Regions from separate parts of the Homo sapiens genome. Here all the other regions are linked to region 1. Evidence: fine-mapped expression QTL. A gene starts in region 1. Each other region holds a variant in brackets. All regions are shown on one strand. Distances are between the middles of the regions. Region 1 holds the start of ITGB3BP (integrin subunit beta 3 binding protein). Region 2 has its middle 7.0 kb from the start of PGM1. Region 3 holds the start of LOC102724319 (a long non-coding RNA gene).

Evidence for each region. PIP is the estimated chance that this variant, and not a neighbour inherited with it, causes the effect.
Region 2: its variant is fine-mapped to the expression of ITGB3BP in whole blood (INTERVAL, PIP above 0.99).
Region 3: its variant is fine-mapped to the expression of ITGB3BP in whole blood (INTERVAL, PIP above 0.99).

The regions. Positions count from the first base shown.
Region 1 is chr1:63,520,072-63,528,071 of GRCh38, reverse strand. ITGB3BP (integrin subunit beta 3 binding protein) reads left to right here and starts at 4,847. Exons shown (of 9, transcript NM_014288.5): 1 at 4,847-4,943. The coding sequence starts at 4,939. EFCAB7 (EF-hand calcium binding domain 7) reads right to left here and starts at 4,547. Exons shown (of 14, transcript NM_032437.4): 1 at 4,438-4,547; 2 at 2,313-2,500. The coding sequence starts at 2,499. RefSeq lists enhancers at 4,584-4,663, 4,825-5,448.
Region 2 is chr1:63,582,269-63,590,581 of GRCh38, reverse strand. It overlaps a transcript of EFCAB7 not described here. Among named protein-coding and RNA genes, the nearest start is that of PGM1, 7.0 kb to the left of the region's middle. The variant T/C (reference allele first, on the strand shown) is at 3,632.
Region 3 is chr1:63,483,544-63,491,543 of GRCh38, reverse strand. ITGB3BP (integrin subunit beta 3 binding protein) reads left to right here. Exons shown (of 9, transcript NM_014288.5): 3 at 1,326-1,461. It overlaps LOC102724319 (a long non-coding RNA gene), which reads right to left and starts at 3,591. Exons shown (of 3, transcript XR_426701.4): 1 at 3,267-3,591. The variant C/A (reference allele first, on the strand shown) is at 3,168.

The DNA of each region.
Region 1 (8,000 bases):
AGTAGGATGCTAGATCCTATGGTAGCTGTATTTTTAGTTTTTTGAGAAGCCTCCAAACTGTTCTCCACAGTGGTTGTACTAATATACATTCCTACCAACAGTGTAAGAGGGTTCCCTTTTCTCCACATCCTTGCCAGCATTTGAAGTCCACATGAAAGAAAATTATATCTTCTGTTCAGTTTTGAGAAAAAAGGTATGTAACTTTTTCTCACAAGTGGTAGCTTAGCATATGCTTGCTGCTATCTTTAGTAACAAAGAAAATATTGTTTTAAAAAATGTACTGGTAATTAGACAAGAACAACTTTCTCAGAATAAAATTAATTATGCCAAAACATGTACTCAGTAAGCAGATGTCCCCATAGCTAAGAAATTGATACAATCTATTTCCTACTAACTTTAATCTCTAGGTTTAGAATTAGCTGGATCTAATGATTAAGTTTGATGATAGTAAAAATATCACGTAGCTGTAGATATTTAAATTTTGACACCATGATATGGATCTTTTGCCAGGGTTTACTTTAAAGTTCTGACATGCATCTATAATCCTGTATTATTTATAAATTGACAAAAAAGGAACTTAAAGCTATAGTAATGCTACCGCTGTCTCTGACCTTAAAATGGAAATGCACATAAGTGGCAGAAGGATATAGATGAAAGGTGTAGCAAGAAGCAGCAGCTCTAGTTCATGTTACTCCTTTTTAAAAAATAGTTTATCTAAAATCAATTATTACAACGTTAAGAGAGTATTCCACCCTAAAACCAAAAGTGTATATAACACTGAAGAGACAAACACTGTATAGTTATCCTCCCAGATAATTTCATAAGATTGATAGCACCTTAGTAATACATACACATTGATTCACAAACTAAATGCCATAGTAGTGGAAGGCATGTTAAACTTTTAAACTTAGCAGATTCCTTCTCTTAGTATATTTTCAAAACAGTAACAAAAAAAAACTCGGATTATTTTAGAAATAATGGCAAATTAGAAGTAATTTTAATTTATTGGCCAGGCGTGGTGGCTCACGCCTATAATGCCAGCACTTTGGGAGGCCGAGGCAGGCAGATCACCTGAGGTCAGGAGCTCGAGACCAGCCTGGCCAACATGGCAAAACCCCGTCTCTACTAAAAATACAAAAATTAGCCAGGCATGGTGGCGTGCAACTGTAATCTCAGCTACCCAGGAGGCTGAGGCAGGAGAATCGCTGGAACCCAGGAGGCAGAGGCTGCAGTGAATCAAGATCGCGCCACTGCACTCCAGCCTGGAAGACAGAGCAAGACTCCGTCTCAAAAAAAAAAAAATTTATTGGATGTCTGCCTAAACATTTAATGTATATGAATTAAACACAAATACTTAAAATTCAAAATAGAGCATTTTAGTAATTTTAAAATTATGTAAATCAAAATTAAACATGACTTTAAAAGTCAGTCATGTGCATTTGCATTTAAACTACTTTACAAATAATGTATTTTATTTAGACATCAAATAAATTTTAATCTTGTCAATTCTTGTATTCCTCAAAATACATTTCCTCAAATAGATCTTATTGGATACAAACTCAAGACACTGCTGCACAAATATGTCAGGGTTTTGGTTTAAGAAAATTCATTATAAAATTGGCAAAATAACTCAGTTTCTCTACCCATAAAGTTATTAGCCTTGATGAAACTGACATGAGTAGTCAGTGTTATCTAGTACTGTTGTTTACTACTCTCTCATGACTAAAGATGTCCAAATCATTTGATACTCCTGGAAAGAACCAAATTTGGTGGTTTTGGGGACCTTTGTAATGAGAGGAATTTTTAAATGTGATAAAGGACAGAAGCAATAAAAGACAAAACAAAAAATAAAAATAAGAAATAAAAAAACCCCAACTCAATTCTCTTTTAAAAGTTCACTTATCTCTCAGTACTTCACTTTTTCAGACATTCCACCCATTTTTACACATCCTTTACACTTTCCTCAGTATGGGTCAAATTCAGGCTAGTGACTTAAGAGGCCAAAAGCGTTTTAATTTTATTATGATAAATCTTAAAGCACCAAAATGAGAATTAAAAGTATCTTAAGCAAGTAGTAATTGATAGAAGCTTTCAATTACCCATCTAGTTTGTATAAACATTGAAAGTTTTATTTTGTAGTTCCTAGAATATGTAACTATATGATATGACATAATAGCTTACTGTAGTTCCATTGCTCAAGCTTCACTAAGAAACTGGGATGATTCAACAAGGTAATTCTAATTTCAGTCTTTCGGACCTATTTATTAACTTTCAACAAAAAGGTGAAAGATTTAAAAATTTTAAAAATTTACCTAAGTAAAGTTGATCTTTAGAAATAATGTTTTCCAAGCTGCTTTTGAAGACAGTTAAGTAGGCAGCTCTACAATTCATATAAAATATTTCCTCTTCAGTTAGTGGAAATTTCTTTGTTCGAGGACTCTCTGAAGGTGTTGATTTCTGACTGGAGAAAGTTGCATCGCTTCGTGGACTGATCGCCATTCTATTGGAAAATAATTTAAAAATGTGTTTGTCAATGTGAGTCACTAAAACACAAATGTCACCATGTCTTTCAAATACAGGGAGGAGAATCAAGATTTTATACATAGAAGAAAATTTATAACATATATGAAAAGATCAAGATATTAAAAGTTTTATATGTGGAAGTAAAAGACGAATACTATAGTTGTATATGGACGTATTATATATTAAACAAGAATAAGCCTTTGGCAGTTAATTTCTAATTTTAGATATATACATATGTATATATATAATTGTTCAAATATGTGATAATAGCCAAAAGAACAAAGATATACACAAGAGAAGAATCACTGAACAAAGGAAGAGCACACATCTATTCTCTCAAAATACGAAAGTCAGATGACAGTCTTCATCAGGTTTTTAAGAGGAGCAAATCAGTTAATACATGTGAAGCATATACAATATTGCTTGACACGTAGTAAGTGCTAAATAAACTGCAGATAATGAGAAACTCCAGAATAATGAGAATCGGGATATGAGTGGTAGTTGACACCCATCTTCCACAGCAGGATCAACAAGATCATTTCATTAACATCTCAATAATGCAGCCCCACATTTCAAATAGCTATATTTTAAAAGTCTTATTTATAGCATTATCATAGTTTTACTGTGTTCCTTTATTAATAACAATATTTGGGGTTTGTATAGCACCTCTGTACATAAGAGCTTAAAGAACTGTCATACATCTTGTCTTATCCCTATTACAGCGGTCAGGTATTTTTTTGTCCGTTTTACAGATGAGGAAATTGAGGGGTAGCAATGTCACCCAGCTAGCAGTAAGTGGCAAAAAGCCGTAAATTTCACGAACAGTTTCTTCTTTGTTAATGTGGATATAGTACTGAACAATGGTTACTATGGGGTATTAGATTCTACTGGTGGTCTAACAGCTTCCAATATTACTCTACCCAGCTTTGACTTCTAAAAATAGATCTCCAACCTAATAAATTGAATATTTCAAGTTCAATAATAAGATAACACAGGTAGGGTCCCCTTCAGGACTCATTGCATTCCTACTCAGGAGGCCTAAATCACTTGCACCTTTTCGAATTATATAGATCATTTACACTTGGGAAAGAAAGATAATAATTGCTTATCATGGATGAAGTACCCTATTTATAATACGCAGGCCGCCTGCCTGACACTTTCATATTACACCAGATTTAGAAGGACCCCACAGGGATGTGGTGTCACAGTCTGGTTACTGCAAATTGGTAATACTATAATTAAGCATCAGAGTTCTAAACACATATGTGTGCATGCATCTCCTCACAAATGTGAAAGAAAACTGTTTCAAGAAGTAAGGGAGAATGAATTTCACTTTGCAATAAGCAATTTTAAAATATAAGTATATTTTAGGATCGTCCTCAAATATTCTTTCCAAACAAGGCAACTCCCTCACATGGAAATCCCAAGGCAGAAATGTGCCAGAATTTTATTCTTTTCCTTTCTGTGACGAGAAACCAAACTAAAGCTTAAATAAACATATAATTGCACCCCCCGCAGGCTTGGAAACCTCCCTTACTTAAAACTCCGGCCCGAGACTGAGACAGGGGCCTAGAGAGTACATTGCAGCAAACGGCTCCATAAATAACCAGCCACACAATAGCAAGAAAAATAAACTGTTAACAAGCGCCTAAGGCTTCTACAGGGCCAAGTGAAAACAGAAAGCCGTCCAGTCACCGTCCCTACACAGTGAAATACCGTCACAGGTAATCTCGGGCACCATCTCTCTATTTTTGTATTCCTCTGGAAATAAAACCGCATTTACATGTACATTTTAGGTACATACATGGACCAAATGTTTATGACAGAGAAGTAGACAAAGCAGAGGAAGGAGAAGCAGCTGCACAGAGAGGGACAGAGGGAGCGAAGAGACAGAGACAGCGAGCTGTTTGCTACCTAATTCTAGCTCACAAACAAGGAAGCGCAGCCAATTCTCTTCGGCGATTCAGCGTTCCTCTCACCGCAGCTGGACAGATCTCGGCCTTTCTCTAATCACCATGGCAACTGCACCTCACCGCCACCGGAAATAAGATGCAGAGCCCTTCTCCAAACGATCCGGCTAGAAATCTAGGAAGCGCTGATCCGGAGCGCACAGAGACAGCTGTGTTGCTCCTCTATCGCGGGGGTGGTATGGCCAGAGTAGTGAGAGAAGGTGCTCTGTTACACCAGCAGGAAATAGGTGCTGTCCTGGGCCTAGAACTCCCCGCTCGCTCCTTTGCTCGCGCACACCCGGATCCTTCGTCGCGGGGAGGATGTTTCCGCCCGGCCGCGGTGGGCTTGACGCAACGTCCAGCGCGCGCTTTTCATGCCTTGGCGTTTCCTTTGGCGGATTTTCTGTTTTCGGAAGTTGCTGGGTTCGTTTTATTCAGCGGCAGTGGTGCTTTCCCGAATCTCAGAATGCCGTAGGTATCTCCTCCCCAGGTATTGCTGTTTTGGGGGCCCTCTGCAAGAAGAGAAGATATTATGTGGCCCAGTAGCCTTTCTCGTTTTCCTATTTTTTCGGAGTATGAACTTGTCTCCTCTGTCCACAGGCAATTCCCTTCGCTTGGTACCCTCAACTCTACGTCTCCTCCAGCGGTACTCATACGATAGTCCTCCTTCGCTTTCTGTTTCTACGATGCTTTTGACAGATTTCGTAAACTGTGGGCTGTATTTAGGTGATGTCTAACTTGAAATAACATAAATAAGGTTGACACACAGGATGGGACAGAGTAGATGAAAACACGCCTTCGTAGTTTGTCAGTCCCTTGCCTTCATTAATGTGGCGCGTTCGTGTAAACCCGTGGGAGAACTCATGGACTGAGTGGGTCTAGATACCTGGATTCCAGATAAGACTCTTTCACTGTTGGGCAAGTCACTTATCGACCCTGAGCTTCGTTTTTTTTTACTTACACAAATAAGTTTGTACTGCATGATCTCTAAATTCCCATCTATGACCAATAATCTGATTATTGAGAATGACCATAGTGGGAATAGGCATTGTGCTAGATAAGATTCATCTGTTTTTCATATCCTTCATCCATCCTATATTGAGATGCATAAAATAGTTGCTACCCTATAGAAACTTAAAAAAGCCATTAAAGGTTGGGGGAGTGGGGTGGATATCAAACACCTGTAATTTCTCCTTGGCCGTCCTTGTCCTCAGGTTGATTTAGGTACCCCCTCTAGTGTAACCTGTTCCTTAGTTTATTTCAGGATTAAGTAAAATGCAAAGTAACACAGCTGGGGAAATTTTTGTATCAAATAGGAATTGACATGAAAGGGGAAAGCTGTACAGAAATGATAACCTATATTTATTGAATCTTGAATTACAATGTGGGTGCTGTATTAATCAATTTATCTACGTTTTTTCATTGAATCCTAAAATACTTTAGGGGATGGGGGCTGCTATTATCTTTACAGATAAAGAAACCCATCACCTAATAGGGTGTTCAACACAGCTGCCAATAAATGCATGTTTTACTGATGCCCTTAAAAGTTATGGATTATTGAGGAGGTTTTCCTTTCCCCAGAATTAAGCAAAGAGACTTGTTTCCCTACTCTTGCATTAGAAAAATCATCCAGTTCTCAAATAAACAAAGCTGCAAAGATAATGTCACACAATCACACACACAAAATCCCTAAGAATACAGTGAAAACAGAGGTGTATTTGCCAAACAAGTGGTAATACCTCCTGAACTGTGTGTATCTGTGTATAGGAGTGGGGAACCAAAAAACTATGAAAAGTGGAACTTTTTTTTTCTTTTTTTGAGGCAGAGTCTGGCTCTGTTGCCCAGGCTGGAGTGCAGTGCTGTGATCACAGCTCACTGCAGCCTCTACCTCCTGGGCTCCCACATGCCACCATGCCTAATTTTTTTATTTTGTAAAGACAGTGTCTCCCTGTGTTGCCCAGCCTGGTCTTGAAGTCCTGGGCTTAAGTGATCCTTCCACCTCAGCCTCCCAATGTGCTGGGACTATAGGAGTTAGCCACTGTGTCAGGCCTAAAAGTGGACCTTTTTGACAACTGTCTTCCTAACATATGCACACAAGATGTTATATTAGGCTTTTAGATAAGTATATTCTGGTAATAAATACACAACCTTAAAGTTGAGGTTAACATCTCACATATATAGCTAATATATATGTGAAACTAGCAATTACTTTGCTAATTTTCTAAGTTTTAGCAAAGTGATTTAAGACTAAATCAACAGTTAAGTAATGCATAAAACGTAATGGCATGTTAGTAGAGAATCTCCATCATTGTTAGTAAATTAAGTGTTTTTTTTTTTTTTAATGTGGTTACTGGTGAGGTCATAAATGAGTGGTGCAAATAGTTATCTTGGCAAGTTACATATGCAGGTGGATTCATTTTTAAGTGATGTTGAAATGGTGACTATTTGGTATGTATTTGGAAGACTAAATGTGTAATATAACTTACGGGAGGGTGTGATCTATCTTTTTTCTAATTTCTTAGAACCTTGAGCAGAAAAAACTTCAATACAACAATGAGTAGTTGTGAAAATATATATGGTCCAAATGAATCTAAAATAAATAAGAAACAGCAAATGTTCAGTGACAATAGAGCGGATGGATGAATCTTAACATAATGAGTGAAATAACCAATTTGTATGAGACTACATTTGTTATCCTTATAAAACTTAAGAACACGCAAAAATAAGCTACTTATGGTTATATATGTATATGATAAGATTATTGTTAAAAGGCAGAGAAATGATAAATACAGAGAAATGATAAATACAGTTTAATAGATGCCTTTTGGGGGAAGCAAATAGATGCATGTATACCCAGTCATATTGGTAATGATCTAGTTCTTAAATTATGTGGTGAGTTTATGCGTGCTTATTTTCTAATGTTTTATAACTTGCACAGCTTACATTTTTTCATTAGTATCCATTATTCATTAGTATTACATTTATTCATTTAGTATGTACTACTTAAAATGTTTTTTAAAAGGATTTAGAGATTACCTATCTTAAGTCCTCCCTAAGTGTAGCTTTCTCTGCCTTCTCTTTGATCCTTTGGAGGAAACAGATGAATTAGATAAATGCTGCTGTTGGTTTCATTAGGCTAATCATCTTCCCTTCCAATCTTGCTCCTCTTTCTGTGTACATTCTGAAATTAGTGGCACAGTCATTTCTCTATCTAGGTTGAAACCTTCACTTTTTAAAGATTTGAAGTGGAAAAATCATGGACTTTGGAGTAAGACAAACCAGGATTTGAATCTTGAGTCTGTTAACCAGCTGTGTGCTCCTTAGATTGTTACTCAGTGTCCTCATTGATAAAATAGTTGCTCAATAAGTATTTATTAATTGAATGATAAAGTTGCTACTTTGGAAAGATTTCATTCTATGTAGACAGATACATGTCTTTTTAGTAGCTCTTGCTGTAAGTAATCAAATCCCATTCTAGACCTTTTTTCTTCTTCTACCTTTTCTTTATAAAGCTTCCTTTAAAAAGTA
Region 2 (8,313 bases), 62 kb before region 1:
TCAAGTGTTAAAGATAAATAAAAATAGAGGCTCCAGTTTAGATATTTTAAGTCCAACCACCCATAGCCAGGTAGCCAAAACTTAAGTCATCCTTATTTCCCTGAAACACTTGCTCTAGACATAAACAAAACACAAAATGTCCTTGACAGTGTGAGTCAATGAAATTAAACCAATCAGCTATAGACAAATCAGCTTAACAGCTCTACTCGCCTTAAAAAGAATGTAACGAAGGTCAAAATACTTCTTCCTCAATGTTTATAAGCTGTACTGTAACTGCTGTGAGCTGGGCTTCTTGCCACTTTTGGTTAGATGTCTTCCAGTTTGTAAACTGTTCTTTGTATGCATGCTAAACTTTTAAAAATTTTTAAAGTTTGATCTGATTTTAACACAGCGCATTCAGATTGCTGGCAGGATCTATTTCCTTGCAGTTGTAGGATTGAGGTCCCCATTTCTTAGATTAGACCTACCTGGATAATCTCCCTTTGTAACGTGTTCATAGGAGTAATGTATCATCGTATTCACAGGTTCTACCCACGTTCAAAAATTGACTTGCAGAGATTTCCAAGTTGTAGTATTTATGAAAAGCAAGAGAAGGAGTCTTATTCCCCTGTGGGTAGCACTGAAATCGGGAAAGAAGCCATTGGAAATATACCAAGATATGCAACAATGATTACCACTGAGTTGCAAGATAGGGCAATGTTTATTTTCTTTATATTTTATCTGGATTTTCCAGGTTTTCTATAGGGAATTTGTATTATTTTTAAAATGATAAGTACATATTATGTATTTTCCTTTTCTTTGAAATACCTTTTAAGTGGTAATCCTTACTTTTTTTTTTTTTTTTTTTTTTTTGGAGACAGTCTCACTCCATCACCCAGGCTGGAGTGCAGTGGCACGATCTTGGCTCACTTCCACCTCCACCTCTGGGGTTCAAGCAATGCTCGTGTCTCAGCCTCCCAAGTAGTTGGAATTACAGGCACATGCCACTATGCCCAGCTAATTTTTGTATTTTTAGTAGAGATGGCGTTTCGCCATGTTGGCCATGCTGGTCTGGAACTCCTGACCTCAAGTGATCTGCCTTCCTCGGCCTCCCAAAGTGCTGCAATTACAGACATGAGCCGCCACACCCGGCCCTCATTATTTCATTAATGAATTATTCTTTACCATTTAGATGTATTCGTTCGTGTATTGATTCATTAACTCTATAAATATGTTTTGAACTTGTACTAAATGACAGCTCTTTGAAAGGTGTTTGATGAATAAGACAAAATAGTCTCGGCCGGGCGCGGTGGCTCACGCCTATAATCCTAGCACTTTGGGAGGCCAAGGTGGGCGGATCATGAGGTCAGGAGATCGAGATCATCCTGGCTAACAGGGTAAAAACCCATCTCTACTAAAAATACAAAAAATTAGCCAGGTGTCGTGGCAGGTGCCTGTAGTCCCAGCTACTCAGGAGGCTGAGGCAGGAGGATGGCGTGAACCCGGGAGGCGGATCTTGCAGTGAGCCAGGATCGCACCACTGCACTCCAGCCTGGGCAACAGAGCGAGACTCCGTCTCAAAAAAAAAAAAAAAGCAAAATAGTCTCTGGTCTCACAGATCTTGCAATATGTTGCAGGAGACAGATACTGAATAATAAATCATAATTGTGATAAGTGCAACAAAGAAGTATAGGTGCTGTTAGATTGTAAATAGAAGGATCTATCATTGGAGAGAGTCATGGACAATATCCTGGAGAAAGTGCTATGTAAGCTGAGGGATAAAACAATGAGTAATAGTACCTGGCCAGGTGAAAAGAGAGGAGGAGCATTTCATTCCAGAAAGAACGTTAAGGGAAGTTTAAAGTAAGAAGGAATCTAGTGTCATCAATAACTTGAAAAAAGACAGTTAGTGTAACTGGAGTATAAAAACCTCGGGGTGGAATGGTAGGTCTGATCATATTGGGCCTTGTAGGGGATGTCAGGTGTTGAGATCTTTATCATAACAGCAGTGAACAAACAAAAGCATTTTGTTTTCATTGTGGCAAGACATACGTAATGAAATTTACCATTTTAATGATTTTTAAGTGTACATTCAGTGGCACTAAGTACATTCACATTGTTGTGCAACCATTGTACCATCCATCTCCAGAACATTTTCATCTTCGCAAACTGAAACTCTGTACCCATGAAACAGTAACTCCCCATTCCCTCCTCCCTCCTACCCCTGAAAACCACTATTCTGTCTCTATGAATTTTACTATTCTCAAGTACAATCATATTTATCCTTCATTTGCATTCCAATTGCAATGATTTAAAGAAATGTATTTACTATAGGATAGCAATCTTTGATGACTGCAACAAATAATCAATGGTATGTATGTGAAATTTATAATAAAAAAGATGTATGGAGTTTATAATGAAAATACTGGATGGTGAAGTGGGTGATATAGTGGCATTAACATTTAACAGTTATTAGTTACATGGCTTATATAGAAACCAATTATCAAAGTGAGAAATATTGAAAAGTAATTCATTAACAACATATAGACAAAGCCTTAGCAGGCACCTATTTGGCATACAATAAAAGCATGTATCATGTTATTGTTAAAAACAAAACAGCTCTATATCTATGTATCCTCATCTTCCTGTCTGGTGGTGTCAAGTAATGGTGGAATAATCTATATTGAGGAATATTGAGGATGTCTACAGTTTAGGACTAGAATGTCCTAAACTAGTCTCTAACTAGAGACTAGTCTCTCAGTTAACAGAGCTCTAATAGAGTAAGTCAGTTGTAAATAATCTTCTATAAGAATGTACAGTTATTTGTAACTGGAAAATAATTGACAATTCCATATCAACCCAAATTAATGCTGAACAATATTGCAAATGTCATTTTAGTTCATTTATGCAGTCTAAATCATAGGTTCTTCTTGACTGCAGATTCAGTTTATTAAATCCTGATCTATTTGTAATTTGCTGAAATGACTAGTTCCTACATATGGAAGCAATATGAAACCGATGTCCGTTTGTATCCATAAGTTATTCAGGTGTTTAAAACTTTTACTTGAATAAAAGTTAATAGATATCTGCATGCTGTGATTCTGAAGTTTGTTCCTGTGCCAAAATAATAATAGTTTCTGAATTCATGTTTCAGTGTCAAGTGGTTATTCATGAGGCTATGTGTGAAAAGGATTGATATATGTGATAAATTGGACTTTTTCCTTAGAATTCATTTTTGGAATCTTCTATAAAGGATATCAGTCTGAATTAATTTATATGAATATTTGATATGCAAATATTAATATTTCAAATGGCAAAAGATAAGATTTTTAAAAATACAGATTGTGAAGGACATTTTTCAAGAGATAATGAATGTCTTCATTTTTCCATTTCATCAGTATTCTTGATTCCTTGTTAGATGCTGTGGTAGGTTAAATAATGGCTCCTAAAAGTTATACATTTCCTAATCCCCAGAATCTGTGAGTGTTACCTTATATGGCATAAATGAGTTTGCAGATATAATTAAGAATCTTGAGATGGAAAGATTATCCTGGATTGTCCAAGAGGGCTCTAAATGCAATTACAAGTGTCCTTAGAAGACAGAGAAAGGGGGACATTTGACTGCAAAAGAGGAGAAGGCCAAGGAGGCAGA[T/C]TGGAGTGATGTAGTCACGAGCCAAGGAATGCTGGCAGACACCAAAAGCTGGATGAGACAAAAAATGCAGTCTCCTTTAAAACTTTCCAAGGAAGCACCACCCTGTCGTCACCTTGATTTTGGCCCAGTTATACTGATTTTGAAATTCTGGCCTCCAGAACTGTGAGAAAATAAATTTCTGTTGTTTTAAGCTACCAAGTTTGTGGTAATTTGTTACAGCACTTATAGAAAACTAATACAGATTGATATGGTTTGGCTGTGTCCCCACCCTAATCTCATCTTGTAGTTCCCATAATCCCCACATGTCATGGGAGGGACCTGGTGGGAGGTAATTGAATCATAGGGGCAGTTAACCCCATGCTGCTGTTCTTGTGATAGTGAGTGAGTTCTCACAAGACCTGATGGTTTTATAAGGGGCTTCCCCCTTCTGCTGGGCACTCATTCTCTCTCTTGCCGCCCTGTGAAAAGGTGCCTTCTGCCATGATTTTAAGTTTCCTGAGGCCTCCCCAGCCATGCAGAACTGTGAGTCAATTAAACCTATTTTCTTTATGATTTACCCAGTTTCAGGTATTTCTTCATAGCAGCATGAGAACAGACTAATACACAGATGCTTTAATTTTATGGAGGGCTATGAGCCACAAAACTTATGGCTTGATCCTCTGGAGGCCTAAAGCATGATTTCAGGTGACAGCAAGAGACAGAATAAGGAAAAAAAAAAAAAAAGGCTATCCTAAGGCTCTACAATCAATAAACACCAGAGAAATATATATCAAGTGTAGCACGAGTGAAGGAAGGAATCAAGAAAATCACGGAGGTAAATATCTCCAAATTATTATCTTGCTTAAATTATCTGAAAAACTAAGGTCAAAAATGTTTTTTTCCTTGAATTGTCTAGGAAACATAGTTCTTTGTTTATTCACTATGTAGAATTGCTGCAGTGTACTGGGAGTGTTCTGTATGCCACCTTGAGATTCTGAACGCAGTCTATCAGAACTAGTTTAGAATTGGCTGGTATTAGCAATTTTTCCTCATGACAGAACTGTTTTTCTTTTTTCCCTTGATATCACTTCCCTGGATATGATTCTTAGGTTCTGTTATTTTTCTTAATTTTGAAACCTTCTTTGAAATACTTTTATTCATACCTTCACTTACTCTCCCTTTCACCCATCTGTTCCTTTTCAAACCACCTATCAAATTTTTACTAAGCACACAGTACAGGATAGTCAGTTAGGTCCCAGATTAGCCAACCAAAATAAGATCCCTGCACTCCAGAACATTAAAATAGGGAAATCTAGACATGTACACAAATTAATAAAATATACGAAGTATAAGCTACAAAAAGGTACTGATTTTTAAAGCTAATATTAAAAAGCAAGATCTTAATAATCTAAGCTTCTACCTTAAGAAACTAGGAAAAGAACAAGTAATCCCAGGGTAAGCAGAAAGAAGGAATGAATAAAGGTAAGAGCAGAAATCAACAAAATTAAAAACAAAAAAAGAGAAAATCAATAAAACTAAATAAAATCAATAAAACTTTTCTTTGAAAAGATCAATAAAAATGACAAACCTCCAGCAAGACCAACAGAGAAGACACATTTTATTAATATCAGAAATGAAAAAGGGATATCACTACAGACTGCATTGACAATTTTAAAAAATTCTATGCACATAAATTTGACAACTTAGATAAAATGGACCAAATGCTCAAAAACTACAAACTACCAAAACTCAACCAAGAATAGGTAAACTGAATATCCTGTAGCTGTTAAAGAAATTGAATTTGTATTAAAAAAAAAAAAACCTCTTCCAAAATAAATCTTCATGCCTAGATGTTTCTAATGAGAAATTCAAGTGAACATTTAAAGAAATAACACCAATTTTACAGTCTTTTCCAGAAAACGAGAAAGCATTCCCAACTCATCTTATGAGGCCAGAATTACTCTGATACCCAAACAAGACAAAGACATTTCCAATTAAGAAAACTACAGACCAACATCCATTTTATGCAGTCACAAAAATGCTCAACAATGTACAGTTGACCCTGAAATAATATGGGGGTTATGAATGCCAACCACCCCCACAAGTGGAAAATCTATCCATAACTTTTGACTCCCCCCAAACTTAACTACTAATAGCCTATGTTGACCAGAAGCCTTATGGAACATAAACAATAAAGTTAGCTAGAGAAAGGAAAATGTTATTTGTTACCATAAGAGAACATATATTTACTGTTCATTAAGTGAAAGTGGATCATCATAAGTCTTCATCCTCATTATCTCCATGTTGAATAGAAGGTGGAAGAAGAGAAGTTGGTCTTGCTGTCTCAAGAGTAGCAGAAGCAGAAGAGGCAGGCACACTTGGTGTAACTTGGAAATACACTGTAATTTTTTTCTTTTTTCAAGACAAGATCTTGCTCCATTGCCCAGGCTGGATTGTGGTGGTGCAATCATAGCTCACTGCAGCCTCGAACTCCTGGGCTCAAGTGATCCTCTGGCCTCAGCCTCATGAGTAGCCGGGACTACAGGTGTGTGCCACCATGCCCAGCTAATTTTATTTTTTGTAGAGACAATGTCTTACCATGTTGCCCAGGCTGATCTTGAACTCCTGTCCTCAAGCAATCCTTCCACCTCAGCCTCCCAAAGTGCTGAGATATAGGCATGAGCCACCACACCCGGCTACACTGTAATTTTTGTCTGACTTTTTTGCTTTCTCATTTCTCTAAAAATGTTTCTATACAGTACAATCCATCTTCCACTGTTTGCTTTAGTTTCCATGTTGCAAAAGAAGTCAAAAGTGATCTTGAATAATCAGAACCCTTATGCCAGACTGTCTCATGTCATTTTGTTTCCTGGCACTGCTTCTTCTATGTCTTCTTCCACATCATTTGGCACTGGTTCAGAATCACTCAACTCTCTCCTGTTGTCTTAACTCCTCTGGTGTGGTGTCTTGAATTTCTCCAAGATCCATATCTTAAAACCTTTCACCTCCCACTTTTTTTTTTTTTTTTTTTTTGGCCATATCCACGTCTTTCATTTCTTTGATTAGGTCTGTCATAAATTCTGTGAAATGATGCACAACATCTGGACACAGTTTTCTCCATCAGGAATTTATTGTTTCAGGTTTGATGACTTTCATGGCTTTTTCTGTAGCATAATCAATGGTATTATCTTTATAGACTTTTATGATGTCCTTTTGTTATTGTTGTTTTAATCTTTCAGTCTTTTATTTTTATATAGTTTTCTTTTCTAAAAGGCCATCTCGGCTTCATATCATGGTTTCTCTCTATTGGGGGTTCTCATCCATAGCGTTGACATTCCTTTCCACAGAGTACCTCCCACGTGAAATGAGACTTAAAGGCCCTCATGACCTCCAATCTATAGGTTGAATTAGGAACCTTGTTTTGGGGAGCAAGTAGACCTCATTGACACCTTCAGTGTTGAATCATGGGGTTCCGTGTGGCCAGGGACATTGTGCCAGATCAAAAAAACTGTAAAAGGTGGTCGCTTACTGGCAAAGTACTTCCTGACTTCAGCGACAAAGCATTGATGGAACCAATCTAGAAAAAGGGTTCTCATTGTCCAGACCTTCTTGTTGTACAACCAAAAGACTGGCAGCTGGTGTTTATCTTTTCCCTTCAAGGCTGCGGAGGGTAGGGCATTGAAGGGGGAGAGTTTAGCACCTTTATAGATAAGGGCAATCTTGATCATAAATGTGACTGCATTCATAAAATGGTAGAGTTTGTTATCCCTTCCTGCCTTAAATCCTGGTGCTTGCTTCCCTTACTTACTAATAAATGTCTTCTGTGGCATGTTTTTCCAGAATAGGGCACATTAGTCTGCATTAAAAACCTGTTCAGGCAGATATCATTCCTCCTCAATGATTTTCTTAATAGTATCTGAGAACTCATCTGATCCTTCTTTGCTGGCAGAAGCTGCTTCTCCTGTTATCTTGACACTTTTTAAGTCAAACCTCTTTCAAAAATTATCAAACCATCCTTTGCTGGCACTAAACTTTTGAGCTTAATATCCTTAAACTTCCTTTTGCATGGCTGGGTGCGGTGGCTCACGCCTGTAATCCCAGCACTTTGGGAGGCCGAGGTGGGTGGATTACCTGAGGTCAGAAGTTCGAGACCAGCCTGGCCAACATGGTGAAACCCCATCTTTACCAAGAATACAAAAATTAGCTGGGCATGGTGGCATACACCCGTAGTCCCAGCTACTCGAGAGGCTGAGGCAGAATTGCTTAAACCCAGAAGGCAGAGGTTGCAGTGAGCTGAGATGGCACCACTGCATTCCAGCCTGGGAGGCAGAGCGAGACTGCATCTCAAAAAAACCCAAAAAACTTCCTTTTGCTTTGTCATATAATGACTTCACTTTTTTAAAAATCCTGTTAATTTACAGGTATGACTTCCTTATAGCAATCCTGTACCCACATAAAAGCTGCATTTCCAATATGAGATGAAAAGGTATTTTGCAAAAAGGGCAAGGTTCTCATGCCTGCTGGCATAGCTGCAGCAACGGTGTTATGAATTTCCTTTTCTGTTTTTACAATGGTCCTTATGTTTTCTTAATTTATCTTGAAATGGCAGGCAACCACATCTGCAAACCTCAATCCACAATGCATATCAAGCAATTCAACTTTTTCTTGTAATGTCATGACTTTGCTATGCTTCTTAGGAGCAC
Region 3 (8,000 bases), 37 kb after region 1:
TCCTCTACCAAGCTATATCCAGTATGTTGGCAATGTATGAGCCATCAGACCTTTCCTATATCCCCCAGATCCATCCTATGCTGTCTGTTCCACCTCTTATTTCAGATTTCTCATGCCTTTTTCTGTGACAGACTACTGCAGCCAACTTTGAATTTTTCCTCTTCTCTGAATTTCGTAGCATGCATACTAATTTAAAACCTCTTTGTTGTTCTTCTAACTTTTGGTAGATACTCCTTAAGGCCAGAGCAATTTGTTATATTTCTTTGTACACATTAGTACACATTTAGCAGTGCTGGTGGGTGATCAGTAAGCTTATGGAAAGCAAGTTTTAAGGGAATTCAGGAAAGGGAACAATTAATAGTATGATAATGGATGTTTGAAGGAAGGGGATCATGAATGAGGACCTAAACTAAGGAAAGTCTAGGTCTTGGGGAAGATAAAAAAGAGGATGTTCCAAGCTGAGATCACAAAATGATCTGAGGCCCAAATGCACATAGCCTAGTGACTGAAGCTGTAGGTAACAGTGAATAATAATTGGATGTATGAACCAGTGAACAAATTAGTATATTCTGAGTAGAGCAAGATGGCCAAATTTACTGGACTGTTCCTTGTAAGTCATTCGTTCCTCACACATTTTTTAGTTCTCTAGGATATAAAGATGAAAAGATAATATTTATTTTCAGGAGCAAATTCTAATGGAACAGACAGAACTTATTAAAATATGTTACCTGAAATAAGAGGTATGCCCAACACCTATGGAAACACAAAGGAGGAAGCTGCTAAGAGGAAATTTGTAAGACAGGCCAAATCCTCAAAGGCCTTAAATGCCTGACTCAACTGTTTGGACATTATTTTGGTGATTATTGAAGCAAGATGCTACATCAGACCACTTTGTGAAGCTGTAGGACAGCAGTGATCCTTCCTAAGGTTTCTGTGTGAGGCTTAGTAATAGGCACCTCTGAGAGTTTTCCTGCCCTGGCCCCATAATTATACTTCAAGTTCAGCTGAAAGCAAAAGTCAGGGTATGGTTGGGAGAGTTGGCCATCTCTAACCTGTTTGGAAATACCATCTCAGAAGGTAGTAACCCTTTAATGCTAAAATTTAGTAAATATCAAATTGAGATGTTCTAGTTATTATAGAGACCTGAAATATCTACCTTGAAAGAATAGTGTTTACTTTGAGAGTGATAGTTGAGTATATTTGTAATCTGAAAAGCAAGAGCAAGGAAACAAGTTTGAATTTTGCTGATTTTTTAATGGTATATAATTTCAAAGATCTATAACTAAACATAGCTATTTCTGTCCTTAATTATTATTTATTTCCAGTCATTTGATCCTTCAAAAATCACAAGGAAGAAAAGTGTTATAACTTATTCTCCAACAACTGGAACTTGTCAAATGAGTCTATTTGCTTCTCCCACAAGTTCTGAAGAGCAAAAGCACAGAAATGGACTATCAAATGGTTAGTTGAACATTCTTTTCTACTTATTGTAAGGTTTTTCTAGTTATTGGCCAAATCAAAATTGTGATTTAATTATGTATGGATCTTGCTACAGCTGATTTTTCTCTTCTCTCAAATAATTTAATACCTTAATATAGGTATTACTTTGGACATAAATGTAAACTTTTGGCACTTATTTTAAAATGCAACTGCAGGCTTTGTTCCCTTACTATCCCATCCATTAAATAGAAATTATGGCCTGACTTGCCTTCAGCTACTATCAATTATAATGGTTACAGATATGCCCCTTAACAAGCTATCCATCATGTGCATAAATTAAAGGGAGCATAATTCAGGTGCTGCTGCACTACAACTTAAGAGTGATACTTCTAAATGTTATTTTTATCCATGGTTTCCATTGAGTTTTACCCACATTTAGTATATCTTTATATAGCTTATCTTTATTTATTATATTTCATTCCCTTCTTTTTCTTGACTATTTCAAATGTATTTACAAAAGGTTTGTAGAATTTTTCCATAGAGAAAAATCTAATTTTAATATGAAATTCTTTATTTTAAAATATTATTAGTTTAATTTTAATTTTGACCATACATATTTGTTGTCCTCTGGTAGTTCATTGCTAAAATATTGATTTAAAAACACAAATCTCGATTCCGTGGGGTTTTTTTTTTTTGAGAAAGGTTATGAATCAGTGACATGTAGTTTTATAATTAAAATTTTAAATAGGCTCAAATTTAATAGTGTATCCTTTAGATATACTGTGATTAGCCTAATTCACATTTTATTGTTTAACATTTAATGAGTGCTAAGCATATACTAGAAGCTACCCAGAAAAAAGAAGTCTCATTTTACCTGATTTGTTATAATGTAACACATAATGAGATCTTAAAGTTTTGAATGTCTTTAATTTTACTTTAATCAAATGCTTTTTATCCTAAAGCTGTTACTATTAGGTTCTCTTTCCCTAAAATGTATGAAAATGTATACACTTTAAGTTTCATAGTTCTATTTTTATATGCATGATATATCTTTTTAATTAAAAATAAATGCCTTAGAGATTGTACATCCCTATACTGAAATGTGAATAGATTTTAAGTTGATATGTACTCAATTTCCATATTGAAATTAAGTATGGACTTAAGGGGACATTCCTTTTGCCCATAAAAAGATTGGTCACATGATTTCAGTTGGCATTTAAGTAGATAATTATCACAGATTATAGTCCTAAGTAAGCTCTTTTTTAAAAAGTCAGATAGCAAGGGTTTCAGAGGTGCTGGCAATGTTCTGTTTTTTGACCTACATAGTGGTTACACTGATTCACTCTAGTTATTCATCAGACTGCACATACATGTTTCATATGTGCTGTAATATATATATCTCACATATAGAAGTCTCGAAACAGAATTTTGTCCAGAATTCTGTATGAGATTATGTCATTTGTAATCATTACATTGCTTATCCTAATATGTCATCTTGTACATGTTTTAAAAATAAAAAAGCTTGATTTTTAGGAAGTAACTTAAGTTCAAAATAAATGAGAAAATATGACGTATGAAGTCATTTAAATTCTAAATGAGGTCATAATCTCTTAACAACTCCCACTTTTAAAATATTATACAAAACATAATATAAAATTTAAATTACATTTTCAAGGACATTTTTGGTGTTACTCACTTCCCATCACACTTATGATAAGATCCAAAAC[C/A]CTTATCATGACATGGAAGGCCATATATCCATCTAACACCCAAACACCTCATCTGCCTCATTTTCTACCCCTTTTTTACACTACTTTAGCCACTCTTACCTTCTTGCTATTTGTCAGTCATGCTGAGCCCCTTCTTGCCACAAGGTCTTGCAGTTCTCTCCACCTGGAATAATCTTCCTCCAGATATTTATATGTACTTTCTATGTACATTTGAACCATGTACTATGTGAACAGAAGACTTAATATTATATTTAAATCCATTTGTAGTTATAAAAGGATGAAAAATTTAGTTCTATGTCTTCCTTCTACTTAGATTCTACATTGGCCAAACATGGGATTTGTTTCAACTCTTTAGTTTATACATTTAACAGATGCGTTCATGCAGCACATAATAACATTTCAGTCAGTGACAGACTGTATACACATCAGGGGTCCCCCAAGATTATAATGGAGCTGAAAAATTCCTATTGCTTAGTTGCCCGGTAGCCGTCATAACATTGTAGCACAACACGTTACTCACATTTTTGTGGTGATGCCAGTGTAAACAAACCTAGCTCGCTGCTAGTCATATAAAAGTGTAGCATGTACAATTATATGTAGTACATGATATAGTCGTGTACTACATAATGATGTTTTGTTCAACAAATGACCACATACAATGATGGTCCTGTAAGATTATAATACCGTATTTTACTGTGCTTTTTTATGTTTAGATATGTTTAGATAAACAAATACTTACAATATGTTACAATTGCCTACAGTGTTCAGTACAGTAATATGCTGTACAGGTTTGTAGACTAGGAGCAATAGGCTATACACTAGGTGTGTGGTAGGTTATACAATGGAGGTTTGTATAAGCACACCTACGATGTTTGCACAACAATGAGATCACCTCATGATGCATTTCTCAGAATGTATGTCCATAGTTAAGTGACACATAACTCTATATGTATGTGTGTATGTTATGTATCATTTATGTATTTTTTAATTTGTATGTACATTATTTTGCTGCCCTCCTCCAACCCATAGCAAGTTTCTCCAGACTATTACAGTTGACCCTTGAACAACATGGGTTTGAACTGCACAGGTCCACTTACATGAAGATTATTTTCAAATAAACATACTGGAAAATTTTTTGGAGTTTTGTGACAATTTGTAAAACCCTGCAGACAAACTTTATAGACTGTAAATATAAAAAAAAAAGTTGGCTATGCCATGGATGCATAAAATATATGTAGCTACTAGTCTATCATTTACCATAAAACATACACAAATTTATTATAAAAAATAAAATTTATCAAAACTAATGCATACAAACACTTAGACCCTACACAGTCCCATTTGCAGCTGAGAGAAATGTAAATGAATATAAAGATGCAGTACTAAATCATAACTGCATAAAATTAACTCTAGTACATACTGTGCTACTGTAATAATTTCATAGCTACCTCCTGTTGCTATTGTAGTGAGCTCAAGTGTTGCAAGTATCTGCTTGACCATGTGATGCTGATAATCTCTGCACAAGTAATGTGTCTCTCAAGTAAATTGTGTATTGCAGTAAAAAATGATCTCATGGTTCTCGTATGTTTTTCATCATGTTTAGGGCTATGCTGGAAACCTTGACTAACACCATGAAACCCACATAAAGTGCCACTAGTGATGCTGGAAGTGCTCCCAATGAGCAGAGAAAAATCATGACATTACAAGAAAAAGATGAATTACTTGATATGTACTGTAGATTAAGGTCTGCAGCTGTAGTTCCTCACCATTTCTGACAGTTCATCTTGTAAACAGATGACAAGCTTATGGTATTAATACTTTACAATACTGTAAATATTTTATCTTCCTTATGATTTTCTTAATAACTTTTTTCTCTAGCTTTATTGTAAGAATACACAATATAATACATATAACACACGAAATATGTATTAATTGACTTTGTGGCATCTGGTCAACAGTAGGCTATTGGTAGTTAAGTTTTTGGGGAGTCAAGAGTTATACTTGGATTTTTGACTACATGGGGGATTTGGCACTCCTAACCCTCGAGTTCCTCAAGGGTCAGTTGTATGCATTTTAGAAAAGAAGAAAGAGAAAATTTTTCCCCTTTCCTCCCATGAACACTTCGGACTTGTTATTTAATAATGAAAGTAGAAGAATAAACAACAAATTTGCATAGTCGAAGAGAGTACTTGTTAACTGGACAATAGATCTGTAAAAATCACTCAGACTATAACAATATAATAGTACAGAGAGATAAAAGGAGAATGTGATAAAACAATAAAGTGAAATGATAGGCAGAATAAGACTCTCCAACATCTGCCAAATTGGAGTTCTACAAGGAGGAAATACAGAGAATGGTCCATAGGCAGTATTCTAAGATATAAGGACTATCAGTTTTTCATAATTAAGGAAAGATAAGAATTTGCAAATTAGAGTAGCATGCTAAGTCTGGGCAGGGTAAAGTAAAACAGATCCACATCTAGTTATATCATGATAAAACTGTATGTAGAACATCAAAGACAAAATTTTAAGGGCAACCAGAGAAAAGATAGTACCTACAAGAGAGTAACAGACTGATAAACTTATCTATATCAGTAGACTCCAGCAGAAAATGCAATAATAGTATCAATTAAGAATCACAGTTGAGTTTTTATCCAGGAAGTGAGGATGAAATACAATTTTTCAGACAAAGTCTCAGAGAGTTTGCCACTCACAGATTCTCTTAAAATAACTACAAAATAAGTTACTTCTCTAAGAGGTAAAGTGAACCTCAGATAAAGGAGTGGAATTGCAAAAAGCAATGATGAAAAAGTGAATTAGCAAACATGTTAATCTAATTACAAGTTTTGCTGACTATAAAGCAAAAGTCAAACAATTGGAGGGCGGGTGAAAAAAAAATTGGAGGGCAGGTTAAAAACAAACAATTGGAGGGCGGGTGAAAAAAAAAAGTCAAACAATTGGAGGGCGGGTGAAAAACTATCATGGAAGGTGAGGAGGCAACAGATAAGAGTTACGATGTTTTAGACAATATTTTAAGGTCCTCGTATTTTCAGGCAGACAAGATATCTATCAGTTGACTTCTTCATTGTATTTTTTGTTTTCTTGCCTGTAAAATGGGGAAGATAGTAATTCCTACCTCAGAATTGTGAGGATTAAATGAATTAATACACAGAAAGCACTTAGAATGGTACTTGACGTATATTAATAGTATATGTTCCATACATGTTCTAGCCATTTTCATTAATAGCATTATTAATTAGACTTTAAGAAAAGACATAAGACAATTAAATCTGAAGGAATAGAAAAAGAAAACAAAGCAAATACTAGCTTTTTAAAAAAAGCTAGTAGTTGATACAAAAATAGAAAGGCTGAAATAGACTTTATGCCTAAAAGGATTTATTGAAAATAATGAGGCTCTTTACATAAGAGATAGAGAAAGATTCACCACTACAAAAATAAAAGGATCCTGAGCCATATGTGCATCTAAAAAACTCAAAACATAATGAAATATGACAGGATAACAAGGGAGAAACTGATAAATCCACAATCATTGTAGGAGATTTTAAACTACCTCTTTCAGAAACTGATGAAGCGGTTAAAAAGGAAGGACATAGACAAGTTGTACACAATTAGCAAGTTTATCTAATGAGCTGTGGTCAAAAAGATATAATACCCATATAATAAAGCACATGTAGAATGTTCACAAAAATGTAACCAGCTTGGAGTTACAGAGGAAGTCTCACTGTACTAAAAATTACAGTCATACAGCTCACACTCTAAAATTTCATACAATTAGGAATCAATAATGAAAAGGCAGCCCTCCAAAAATTTTAACCTGTATGTTTGGAAACCAAGAAACTTCTAAATAATTCATTGATCAGAAAAATTATAATGGAAAGTATAAAATATTTAAAATTGAATGATAATGAAAACATGTCAGCACTTAGAGGAAAAATTTATACCTACATTATACTAAAGCAGTTCTTGGTGGAAGCTTTATACAGTCGTCCCTTCCTATCTGGGGGATTGGTTACTGGATCCCACTCAGTTTCCAAGATCCACAGACTCTCAAGTCCCTTGTAGAAAATAGTATAGTATTTGCATATAACCAATACACCCTCCTATATACTTTAAATTATCTCAGGATTACTTATATACCTAATACAATGTAAGTGCTATGGAAATAGTTGTTATACTGTATTGTTTAGGGAATTATGACAAGGAAAAGTCTGTATATGTTCAGTACAGATGCAACCATCCTTTTTTTAAACAAAGTATTTTTGATCCATGGTTGGTTGAATCCACAGATGTGGAATCCACTAATACAGAGGGCCAACTGTACTTACAAATGCATATACAGTCCTGTGTCACTTAACAATGGGGATACCTTCTGAGGAAAGCATTGTTTGGTGATTTTGTCATTGTATGAACATCATAGATTGTACTTACACAAACCTAGATGTCATAGCCTACTACACATTTATGCTATATGGTATAGCCTTTTGTTCCTAGGCTGCAAACCTATACAGTGGACTACTGAATACCATAGGCAATCAAAACATAATGGTATTGGTGTATTTAAACATATCTGAGTAGAAAAGGTACAGTAGAAATATGGTGTTTATAATCTTATGAGACCACTGTCATATATGTGGTTTGTCACTGACCAAAATGTTGTTATACTGCTCATGACTGTATTTAAAAAGGAAGAATGATTGAAAACTATTGAGTCAAGCATTCAACTCAGAATGACTGAAAAGGAACAACATAATGAACCCCCCAAAGTAGAAAGGAAATAATGATATGAAGATAAATTACAAATTGAAAACAGGG